Linked DNA regions of Homo sapiens: regions 2 and 3 are each reported to be linked to region 1. Evidence: microRNA targets listed by miRTarBase, many of them from high-throughput screens and not tested one by one. Region 1 holds a microRNA gene; each other region holds the end of a gene's coding sequence.
What was found. The annotated mature microRNA hsa-miR-125b-5p reads UCCCUGAGACCCUAACUUGUGA and lies in region 1 at 2,467-2,488, shown strand. An mRNA with a match to its seed (bases 2 to 7 or 8) in the 3' UTR can be bound and repressed. Matches are read on the target gene's strand: a 7mer-m8 pairs with bases 2 to 8, a 7mer-A1 pairs with bases 2 to 7 and ends in A, and an 8mer does both.

Region 1 (4,315 bases):
AATTTTTTGTATTTGTATAATGCAGTGTCTGGCCTTCCCCCTGACCTGCTGATGTATTTTTGGCCTCATTAGTAGTCAGGGAGATGCCTTAGTGCATCCAGCACTGCAAGTCAGGGATGAGACACACTACAACAGGAGAGGGAGCAAGCGCGAGAGGATATTAGAAGAGAGGCTTGTCTCCAAGATATGGAAGGAAGTGAGAAATGACAGGGCTGCAAGCTTTGTATGTAGGAGCCCGGCAGGGCGGGGGAGCGGCGAGGAGAGCCAAGTGGATTCTCAGAAAAGGGGGGAAGCCATCGAAGAGCTAAAGGTGATTAGAGGGGGATATTGATTTCTTATTCTGCCAGAGATTTAAGCAGGCATGCGAGGAATCTGCACCATGGTTGGCAAAAAGAGACCCGTTGCCTCCTGTAACCAGACACTCAGGCTTTCCAGGAGCCCAGGGAGCAAGCCGAGAAGAAAGGGGGCAGTGTGGTCTAGGAAAATTCAACTTGTCGCTGATTTGTGCCTGATGCCTGCTGTCCGTCAGCAGCCTCCCTTACAATCTTTTTTTCTCTCTCTCCTTTTTTTTTCCTTGCCTTCTCCTTCTTCACTGAAGCCTAGGGGAGCCAGTAAAGATTAAATGTGCTTCTCAAAGGCAGCCACTTCATGCTGCTATGTCGAAAGGGCCATTATTATTATTATATTTTAATGGTAAAAGAGAAAAGGAGAGAGGTTGAGCGAGCGAGAGAGAAGCTAGGTGTGATGATGACAGACTAGCTTTTCTGAGAGGAAAAGGAAAAGGGAAGGGAGAGAAAAAGGAGAGCCTCTGAGCTCAACGGAGGATTGTGCCTGAGAAGAACCCACAGAGGTGAGAAAAAAGTTGTCTTGAAGGTGGGGGTGGGGGGGCTGCTAAACAGACACTGTACAGAGGGAGAAGAGACATAATTTAGCTGTGTTGCTAGTATGATTCCATTTTTAAAGGAGGGGAGGGGGAGAGTCTAGAGCTCTAACTGTTTTTAGTTGCATATGGAAATATCTAAAAAAATATTTAGCATTTTTACTAAGTGCGTTGAGGCCTCTCCAGTGTCCTCCTGGCTGTGGCTGCTTTGTCATTCTCTTTGACTAGCCAGCCATCTACCTTGCTCAGGCCTGGAATAAAAGAAGAACAAGAAGAAGAAAGAAATGAAATGAAAAACAGAAAGAAAAAGGAGAAGAAACATTTGTAAAAGGGTCATCTTCCCATCTGCCTCCCCTCCTTTTCCTTTCATTTTTGGTGGCGGCACAGGAAAGCCCCACTTCCAGTCTGATGAGGAAAGCGACAATCTATCAGGTACAGAACCAGGGGCTGTCTGCGAAGATGGAGGGGAATTATGCTTCGGATTCCTCTGAAATATTGGCCAAAGGCTTCAAAGAATCCGCAGCGGGAGGTGCGGGGGGAATGTCTCTCCCCAGCCCGCACCCAGCCCTTCCCACTTCGTGTCTACCAAATGACAGCCTGGTGCTCGCTCTTGGTGATTTGGCCTTGACTTCAGCCAAGCAGCTGATGCAGACGAAGCCTCCGTTTGCAGGACTGGCAAAGTGCACGCTAAAGAAAGAAGGAAGAAATTTTTCAAAAAGCAGCTCTGGGGAGGTTTCATACTCCCCCCCCCCCCCCGCCTTTTTTTAATTTTTAAGTGAATATTTTCCAAATTTGATCAGTTCCAGCCCCTCCCTCCACTCCCACCCAACTGCCCTTTTTTCTCTCGTCAAAGCATAAGCTACAGAGTTACAGTCTCGAGATTTGGTGTATCGCTTCCTGCCCCCGCCTCCCCTCCCCGCCCCCGTTCTCCGTCCTCTATTGAAACACCTCGCCCAGCCTAGCGCACTGAGAGCTCTCATTTTCCCCCCTTGCTCGGGATGGTGCCACAGGAGGCTGTGCGGGCCCCGCTCCGCTTCGAATGGGTGAGTTCAGAACGCTATTCGTCTTTACACTTCTATAGCCTCCGAATCCTACTTCTTGGTCTTCTCCTTTGAAAACCCGATTTCTATGATTTTTGCATGCGGCATACTTGCCCTGGGGGAAAGAGATGCCTCCTATTTTCTCTTCAGTCATTTGTGCTAGTCGTAAATTAAAGCTTTGAAAAGACACTAAATCCTTATTGTAGACTATGGTTTTAAAAACTTGGGCATTTCTGAGTCTGTGCATATTATTTTCCGTTTTAGTGAACTATTTTGCCCAAATCTTGAAAGAGTTTTCTCTGATGTACTCGTGATCGTATGTGTATGTGCGTGATTGTATATGCGCCCCCAGATACTGCGTATGTGTGTATATATGTATTAGGCTTAAACGGAATCTCAATTTTGTGAAGGAAAGGAGCTTAGAGAAGAAATACCATACCACCTGTTTGTTGCATCTTAGTTATGAACCTCGAACAGAAATTGCCTGTCATTCTTGTTTTGCTTTGCTTTGTCTCAAGAAAGAAAACATTGTTGCGCTCCTCTCAGTCCCTGAGACCCTAACTTGTGATGTTTACCGTTTAAATCCACGGGTTAGGCTCTTGGGAGCTGCGAGTCGTGCTTTTGCATCCTGGAAATTTGGTGGAATTTTATTCTTTAAAGCAAAAACAAAAGAAAAGAAAGTTTGTCTGAGGTGATTGAGTATACCTCTGAGGTTTTCATTGTTAGATGGGATCAGGTGACCAGAGAGTGGCAGCTCCTGGATTTCTGTTAAAGTAGGTATATATTTTGCTTTAATAGCGTGTTGGCTGCTATGTGTATGTATGCATGTTATTGATGCCTGAGGCTTGTGGAACTCATCTGCCTGGTCTATTCCTTGAGAGCAACACGCAGTAGTATACGAGCGTAACAAGAACAGCTCAGTACCTGGTGCTTGACCTCAGAACATCTCAGCTGAAGTCCCAGCATGCCCCATGTCTCCAACTTTCAAACTCCACAGTTAATCTTAAAATTGTGCCCAATTAAAATGGGCATGTGAATATATTATATATTCAGTGTCCACACATGTGTATCATGGATGGCTAGACAGTGAACATACAGACGCAGATAAAGGCAAACTAATAGTTTGGAGTAAAATATTAATAGGTTAAAATTCTATTCTTGCAATTCCACACAAAGGATGGAAGTTATGGTATTAATAAAAATTAAGTTTGTATGACTTTGCAAGATTTTTTAAAAATAAAAGGAGGGATACCACCTCCTTGCTTGGTATCTTTTACAAAATGTTATACTTTATGGATATAAAGGTGATAAAGATTGGAAATAAATCTTCTAAATATGTAAAATGAAAGCAACAGCAACAGCAAACACAATTATCGTATTCTTTGGGAGTAACAAATACTGGTTTTCATTTTAAAACTAAGGAAAATTTTATCAGTACTTAAATTCAATCCAAAAAAGGTTTTATAACACCCAAACTGTACATTTAAAATTATCCTTTCTTAAGGTAATGGCTAGCATTACCTAGTTTGTAGTTTTCTTGAGCTGTAACTTTTTATAACTGAATCATTTCAGTGATTTAGGGCTGTCTCGTAGTTGGGGAAGAGAAACAGTAACTTACCTTTCCTTTGTTGTGAAAAATTCTAGTATAAAATATCATTTAAACAATTTTCGTATTATTGGGCCAACATTTCTCTTCTATGTTTGAAAAACACCTAAATCAACCCCAATCCAAATGCTTTCTTCTTCTAAAGACTTTATATTGGTTGTAGCCTTGTTTTATACATGTAATTGAAGGTTAGGGAAACTGTTCTTTGCCTGTTATTGTTTTTTATTTTAAGTGTTTATTGCAATTTTAGTCATTAATGCCAAATTGCAATCAAGAAACCATTTTGTATCAGAAAATTGAACTGAGAATATGAACTATGCAACGATTGCACCACGTCTTTTGTTGAAACCTCTTGTGTAGTAATATTAGAATATTACTTTCCAGTCTTTGATAGTCCGAATGTGCTTCAAAAAAAATAGTTATTTGATTGTCGAGTCATCGTTAGTTTATATTCAATGGTTTAATGACTTCCCCTACCTTAGCTGATGTGTATGCATAGGTATTTGGAAATTATAGCAAGGCATCTATTTAACTTACGAATCTATATTACCACATTATTCATATCCAACATTTGTAAAACAGTTGGTGCTTTTTGAAGTTAAAATATATCTGCAGTTTACTCTATGAAAATGTATACATGGATCAATAAAAACATGCCAGGTAAAATTCTTCCGTGATTTTCAGTGATAACAGGGTAGTAATTTAATACAAGTGTTTTAATTTGTATTTCAAGGCACTCTCAGGTTTTTACATGTTTTCAAGTGGATTGCTCATGTTCCGAGGTTGCTA
Region 2 (3,000 bases), not on the chromosome of region 1:
TCCTGTCCTCAGCCATCTAGAACTCCTCCGAATCAGCCGTTCCTTATGTATCCTGCTAGAGATGTTTTGTGCCGGTGCAAGCAAACATATATATAGTTTTTTCCCTTTATTCAGAATGGTGGGATATATACACAGTGTTCTGTACTTTGCTTTTTTTTTTTTTAATCTATTTTTGGAATCAAAGAAACATAAAAGCCTTTTTTAAAAGAAGACTTGCTTGGTCCTTAGGTGAGCTGGACCCAGAAAGAATGGGCTCAGGTATTCAGTACGGAGATGCTGCCTTGAGACAGCTGAGGTCACCGCGGCGCGCACAGGCCCCGAACGCTCAGGAGTGTGGTTGTTAGGAGAGCACACAGGTGGGTTTGGACACCTCCCTGCCCTGAGTTCCTGGCAAGCTCAAGTGCAGAGGCCTGTTAAAGCTTTGGGAAGCTGCAGTATGAAAAAGAGGGGATCCCAGCCGGGTGCAGTGGCTCTAATTCCAGCACTTTGGGAGGCTGAGGTGGGCCAGTTGCTTTAGTTCAGGAGTTCGAGACCAGCCTAGGCATCATGGTGAAACATCATCTCTACAAAATACAAAAAATTAGCCAGGCGTGGTGGCGTGCACCTGTAGTCCCAGCTACTCATGAAACTTAGGAGAATTGCTTGAGCCTGGGAGGCGGAGGTTGCAGTAAGCCAAGATCATACCACTGCACTCCAGCCTGGGCGATAAAGTGAGAACTGTCTCAGAAAAAAAAAAAAGAGAAGGAGAAGAACCCATAAGTTAAAGTTGGATGTTCTAACTGAAAGAATTTATACTCTATAGGAAATTCTTATGCTCTTGTTCAGAAAGAAAGGAAGGGCAGGTGGTGGTTGATGGGAAGGGTGAGATATCCTGATTCCTTATGTCAGTGAGGAGCCCTTCCTGGATTGATTGAGGTCTAAATGAATGTGCCTTTTGCTAAAACAGGAGGCCTATTTATAAAATTGACAAATGTCTCCCTTTAACTTTTTAAAGCTTCTTCTTTTTTCCCATTTACCACAGTGGACGTTTTATTTATAGTCGACATCATGTAGTAGGCACAGGCAAGTGTTAAAAGACAAGATATTCACGAATTCTCTTTTAGGCTTTAAGCTGTATTTACTTTTGCATTTATAGTTATGCAGATTTTGAAATTGTTCTTAATATTTTTTAGGTGTTCATACAGTGGCATTTGGGACACAATCGTTGGAACCTGAAGAATCTGAAGTTTTTTTTACCACCATCTTTTTCTACTCTGTATGGAAGTAGATCTTTATGGGGAAAAGAGAATTTGGGGTGTTCTGCAAGCCAGTCAAAGTGGCACAGCAAATCATATAAATCGAATTAAATGGACAACACCGTTAGATGTGTATGTAAAAATTTTCTGTTTCATATTTTTCCTTTCACTTTCGGTTTAAAACATGCTATATGTACTGTATGTCCTGTAGCCCAGTGCGGCTCCACAGCATGGAATCTGATGTATGATATGATAGAATGTGGCACTAAATGCAGTTTCAGATTTTATTTTTTTTAATCATATGAACTAAAATTGTCAATTGTGAGGTGTGCTTTTCTCATCATGTTGGTTATATTGCACAATTGGTTATATTTATGACCTGATATTCAAAGACTCTGGCATTGATAGCCAGTGTGTTTTCTTATTTAACTCCGTTTACTACATTCTACATGGTGTTTACGTGATCCACACTTGAAATACTAGATCAGTAGACATTCACTAATATACCAAAATAAAATGAAAAATTGAGTTTTTCCGTGAACTTTATACTGTCCAGCTCTGTTGATTTTAAAGCCTCTTCATCCAGGTCAGTTCAGGAAGTATATCTGGAGTACCTGCTCTGTTTTTGGCTGTGAGACTAGCACTAAGGATTCTGGTACCTTTACCCAAACCTACTGGGCTACTAATACTTCTCTCAGCAGTTGATCAAATACAATAGACCATGTAAGCTGGGGCCGCTCATCCACTTCCAGTTTGCTGGTCTCCCTGCTAGAAAACACATTGTACTGTGCTTTTTCTGGAATTCAGTATAATGGCATCACTGCCTGTTTTTCACATCTTTTGTTTCCTGTTCATTTTAAGGAAACCTACTAAATCCAGTTAATATTAAATGGACACCACTCATTAAGAAATTTCTTTATGGCTTCTGCTGAATACTTAAATGCCTTACTACAGTTATCCAGTTGACATGTTTTTAATTCATATAAGGTATATTGGGTATATTGAAGTATATATTGTATTACAAAGACTTGTTCTTGTATTTTAAAATGTCAGTGCAAAAAATATATGGTGGAACCTTTCTTTAAAGTTGAAATGCAGTATTATTTAAATCTGAAAGGTTAAAAAGCTTTCTTCACCTTATATATGTTCTTCCACTGTGACTTTTTAGTTGAAGACTAGTAAATTAACTTTTAGTTAGAAGATGCCTACTGCTTTTGTTGTTTATTTTAATCAGCAGAGCACAGAGACACATAAAAACTCTGGGAAATGACTAGGATAAAAATATCAGTATGTATCTGTTTTAGATATTTTGAGTTTTGCTTTTTTTATGCCTTGAATATTTTATTTCAAAAAGTATCTGAAGCAAATTCTCAGACTGAACTACTTCTTAGACCTCACTGTAAGAATATTTTATTCAATGTCTCATTTATGATAGATTTGCAAGCTGCTCATTTTTGAACAGCTTTTTGCATGGGATAGGAGCATGTCTATTCTAACACATCAGCTTATTCAAAAGCAAGAATTTTAAAAATAAGATAAATGTAAAGTTGTTTTATAAACGATCCTGTTAATTAAACCACAGACACCATATATCCTTCTGCATCCTTTGGCCAATAAAAGTTGCTGGAGAACCAAACCATGGTGGTTCTTAATCAGGCTTTGCCTTTAGGGAGAATGAGGAGGAGAGATAATTGGGTATTGTTCAGGCTAGTAATAAATGTCATGTTTCTATTTCCCGCAACTCATTAAGTTTTCAGGAAGCTCT
Region 3 (3,000 bases), not on the chromosome of region 1:
GGGAAACCCACTCTCTAGGGCTGGCTTCCAGCGCAGCTGTTTGGAGAAAGAGCTACCCTGGAGAACCTTAGTCACTGCTACAGTGGTAGAGAAGACGGAGCACAGGAGTAGCTCCTCAGGGAGGAGGGACACAGACCACACCCCCAGCTCCTTGGTGACCTCCAAGGGAACCAGCTGGACGGCAGCAAATGGGCTTTTCCCCCGGCTTTTTCTCAGCTCGCTGTGAACCCGGCCCAGATGCATCCCATGCTTACTCATAGAGTAAAGCAAGCCAGGTATGAGGCAGTTACAAGCCAGCAGTTTTTTATGTGATTGATTCTATCTTCTCTGGAGATGCCCCAAGATTCTCTGGAAACAGTTAGGCCTCAGTATTTCCTAGCCAAGGAGCAAGCTTCCAGGAAATGAGCGAGTGAGCCTCCAATTGTATATGTAGACGTAAAAACAGCATGCATGCCCCTCCACCACCAAGCCTTTTTCATTTCCAAGCTTTTCTCTAATCACCAGGATCCAAACACCTCCAGCCCAGCTCCCATCCCCGCCCTCCTCCTCAGCCTTGGGCCCACCCACCTCTGTCTTCACAAAAGGTGCCCCGCTGGCCGGCACCACAGAAAACATCCAAGCCCAAGGTACTCATGGTTTGTGTGTAAAGGGTTTTTATTGGAGAGCCTGTGGCGCTGAAGTGCCACCAAGGATTTGGAAGGTCACTTTCAGCAGCCGCCATTTCTGCCAGGACCAGTGGCAAGCACCTGGCAGATGGAGCCCGGGTGTTTCTGCGTAAGGCAGAGGAATCCAGCTTTTCCATGAGATTCAGCTGCAGTTGTCGAAAACCCTGTGTGAGCCAGCAGTTCCAGTTCAAAGGTTGAGGGGGCGAACAGCTGCGAGGTGGCCAGGCTCCCGTGAGTCACCACTCAGGCCTGAGTACACCGTGGAGAGGAGAGATAAAGCAGCCACGGCTGTTCTGTTGCCAGTCCCACCCCTCTGGCAAACAGATGGGGGAAAACAGAGAAGGAAAGTCAACAAAGAAGGTGAAATGCAGGGAGCAGAGACTACACGCAGGCCCCCCGTGGCTGGCAATACCATGCGTGCTGGGCCGGCTGCGCCACCCTCACCCAGGGCTTCCCACGGGCTCTGCTCTTTCCTGCAGAGGCGAAACTGCCTTCCTGGCAGGCGGAGGCTGCCGAGCTCCCATGCCCCTTCCCACATATCCCAACTCTTCTCAGAAAACTGAAGAACCGAAGATGGAGGTGAGTCAGGAAAGGCTGGAGTTTTCATCCAAAAAAAAAAAGAGCAGGACAATAAACAGGCAAATACACAAACCCTGGAGCAAAGCCAGGAAAAAAGGGGGAGATAAAAAATAAAAAAATAAAAAACACCTTTCTAGAGAGAGCAAAATCCCAGGGTCCCGAAGGCACTGCTAATAGACTAATAGAAGCATCTTTGTTGCAGCCAATCACCTCTAGCCTGGGAACACCGCTAGTCAGGAGGCCTCAATCAACCTGAGAAGTCAGCCCAAGGCCCTGTCTCCAGAAGCCAGCAGCAGATCCCTGGGTCATGTCACAGGCAAGTCCTCACTTCACCAGCTCAGAGGTGAGCCACTCTCACCTGAACCTCTGCCTTCCGGCAGGGACCTCCTGGGTCCTGTGGGGTCTCCTGGGTCCAGGTGGGTTCCTAGTCCAGCCCCGTCTAGACTGACTTCAAATATAGTCCCCTGACAGTGTGATTTTTTCCAGCCAGCCAAATCACCGTTCATTTTTAAAATGGTTTTTAAAAATTACATTTCTAAGGCAAACAACGTAGAACTGTGACAGAGCAGAGGAACAACAAAAAAGCACAAAGAATGTTGCTAATCACAGGCTGCCTAGCACTTTCCTTTCCCTTCAGAGAAGGAGAAACTGTTTTATAGGTATCACACACGTGCACACGCACACACGTGCACACACACACACACACACACGCACAGTTTTTCCCTGATACTGGAAATTCTTTGTGAACTAGCCACGCTGATTTCTGCTGAACCTTTTTTTTTTTTAAAAAAAAAAAAAAAGGAAGAAAGAAAAGGAGCCACAGACGTGTCCAGGTCTGGAAGGGGCTGACCAGCTCTAAGCACATCCACCTTGAACTCTGACACAGGTAACGCCAAAATGAGGCCAGGACCTGACCAAGCCAAAAAAGCAGCAAAGGATCAGATGGGGTCCAATGTGTAGATCCAGTAGAGAAGAATGTCGGAAATTCTAAATACACAGTTGGACATCCTTCAGGCTTGTTTTAGATTCTTGATCCTCCTGATCTCTTTTACTATTGTCAACAATTGTCTTAAAAAAACTTCTTTAAAATCAACATGTTTCTACCCTTTGCTCCTTAGCAAGGCACAAAGCCTCTTACATGGGGAGTAGAAGTAGGGGGCACTTTAAAGGGATGCCCAAAGGGTGGCAGAAGCAACTCCATTGTGGTGACGTGGAAACGAGCTTGCCAGTGACAGTCTGAGCAGATGCCTGACACGCACGATGGAGCTGGGGTTTTATACATAACGTTCGTTTTGGTTTCAACACCTCCGACGCAAGAGGGCTTCCAGGTCCAGTCCTTCACACCCCAGGTTGCAGCTGACCAACTTTCCACAGGATGCCACCAGGCTGGGAAACAGGTTTTACCTAAAAGAAAGGGAAGGACAAGAGTAAGCCCCTTCTGGCAGAGCCTCGCACCCATTCTGACCCCTCCTGAACATCTCTATCCCTCACCCTCTCAGCCAGTGAAAAGGCCACAGTCCCCAGCCACAGGACCTTTGAGCGTGCTGTCTGGAAGGCGCAATCCACTCTTCCAGCAAACCCCCTCCCTCCCCACAGTTCCCAACTAAGGATCCCTCCCCCAGCTCCCCACACAGACTCCCTAGAACACAACCTCTTTCTCCTTATATCCCTCTCCTTGCCAGCACTTCCAGGGTGTTTACACTAGGGGTTGGAAAACTTCTTCTGTGACAGTCCAGAGAGGAAATATTGTAAACTC

Region 2: the mRNA of RAB4A is a reported target of hsa-miR-125b-5p. The part of its 3' UTR that is shown has no 7-base or 8-base seed match.
Region 3: miRTarBase lists FAM174B as a target of hsa-miR-125b-5p. Seed matches in the 3' UTR shown: 7mer-A1 at 1,965-1,971.

The regions. Positions count from the first base shown.
Region 1 is chr11:122,097,982-122,102,296 of GRCh38, reverse strand. MIR125B1 (microRNA 125b-1) reads left to right here and starts at 2,453; the gene lies at 2,453-2,540. All of the region lies in intron 4 of MIR100HG (mir-100-let-7a-2-mir-125b-1 cluster host gene), which reads left to right.
Region 2 is chr1:229,302,634-229,305,633 of GRCh38, forward strand. RAB4A (RAB4A, member RAS oncogene family) reads left to right here. Exons shown (of 8, transcript NM_004578.4): 7 at 229-356; 8 at 1,173-3,000. The coding sequence ends at 344. Among named protein-coding and RNA genes, the nearest start is that of RAB4A-AS1, 33 kb to the left of the region's middle.
Region 3 is chr15:92,616,812-92,619,811 of GRCh38, forward strand. It overlaps FAM174B (family with sequence similarity 174 member B), which reads right to left. Exons shown (of 3, transcript NM_207446.3): 3 at 637-2,648. The coding sequence ends at 2,645. Among named protein-coding and RNA genes, the nearest start is that of FAM174B, 37 kb to the right of the region's middle.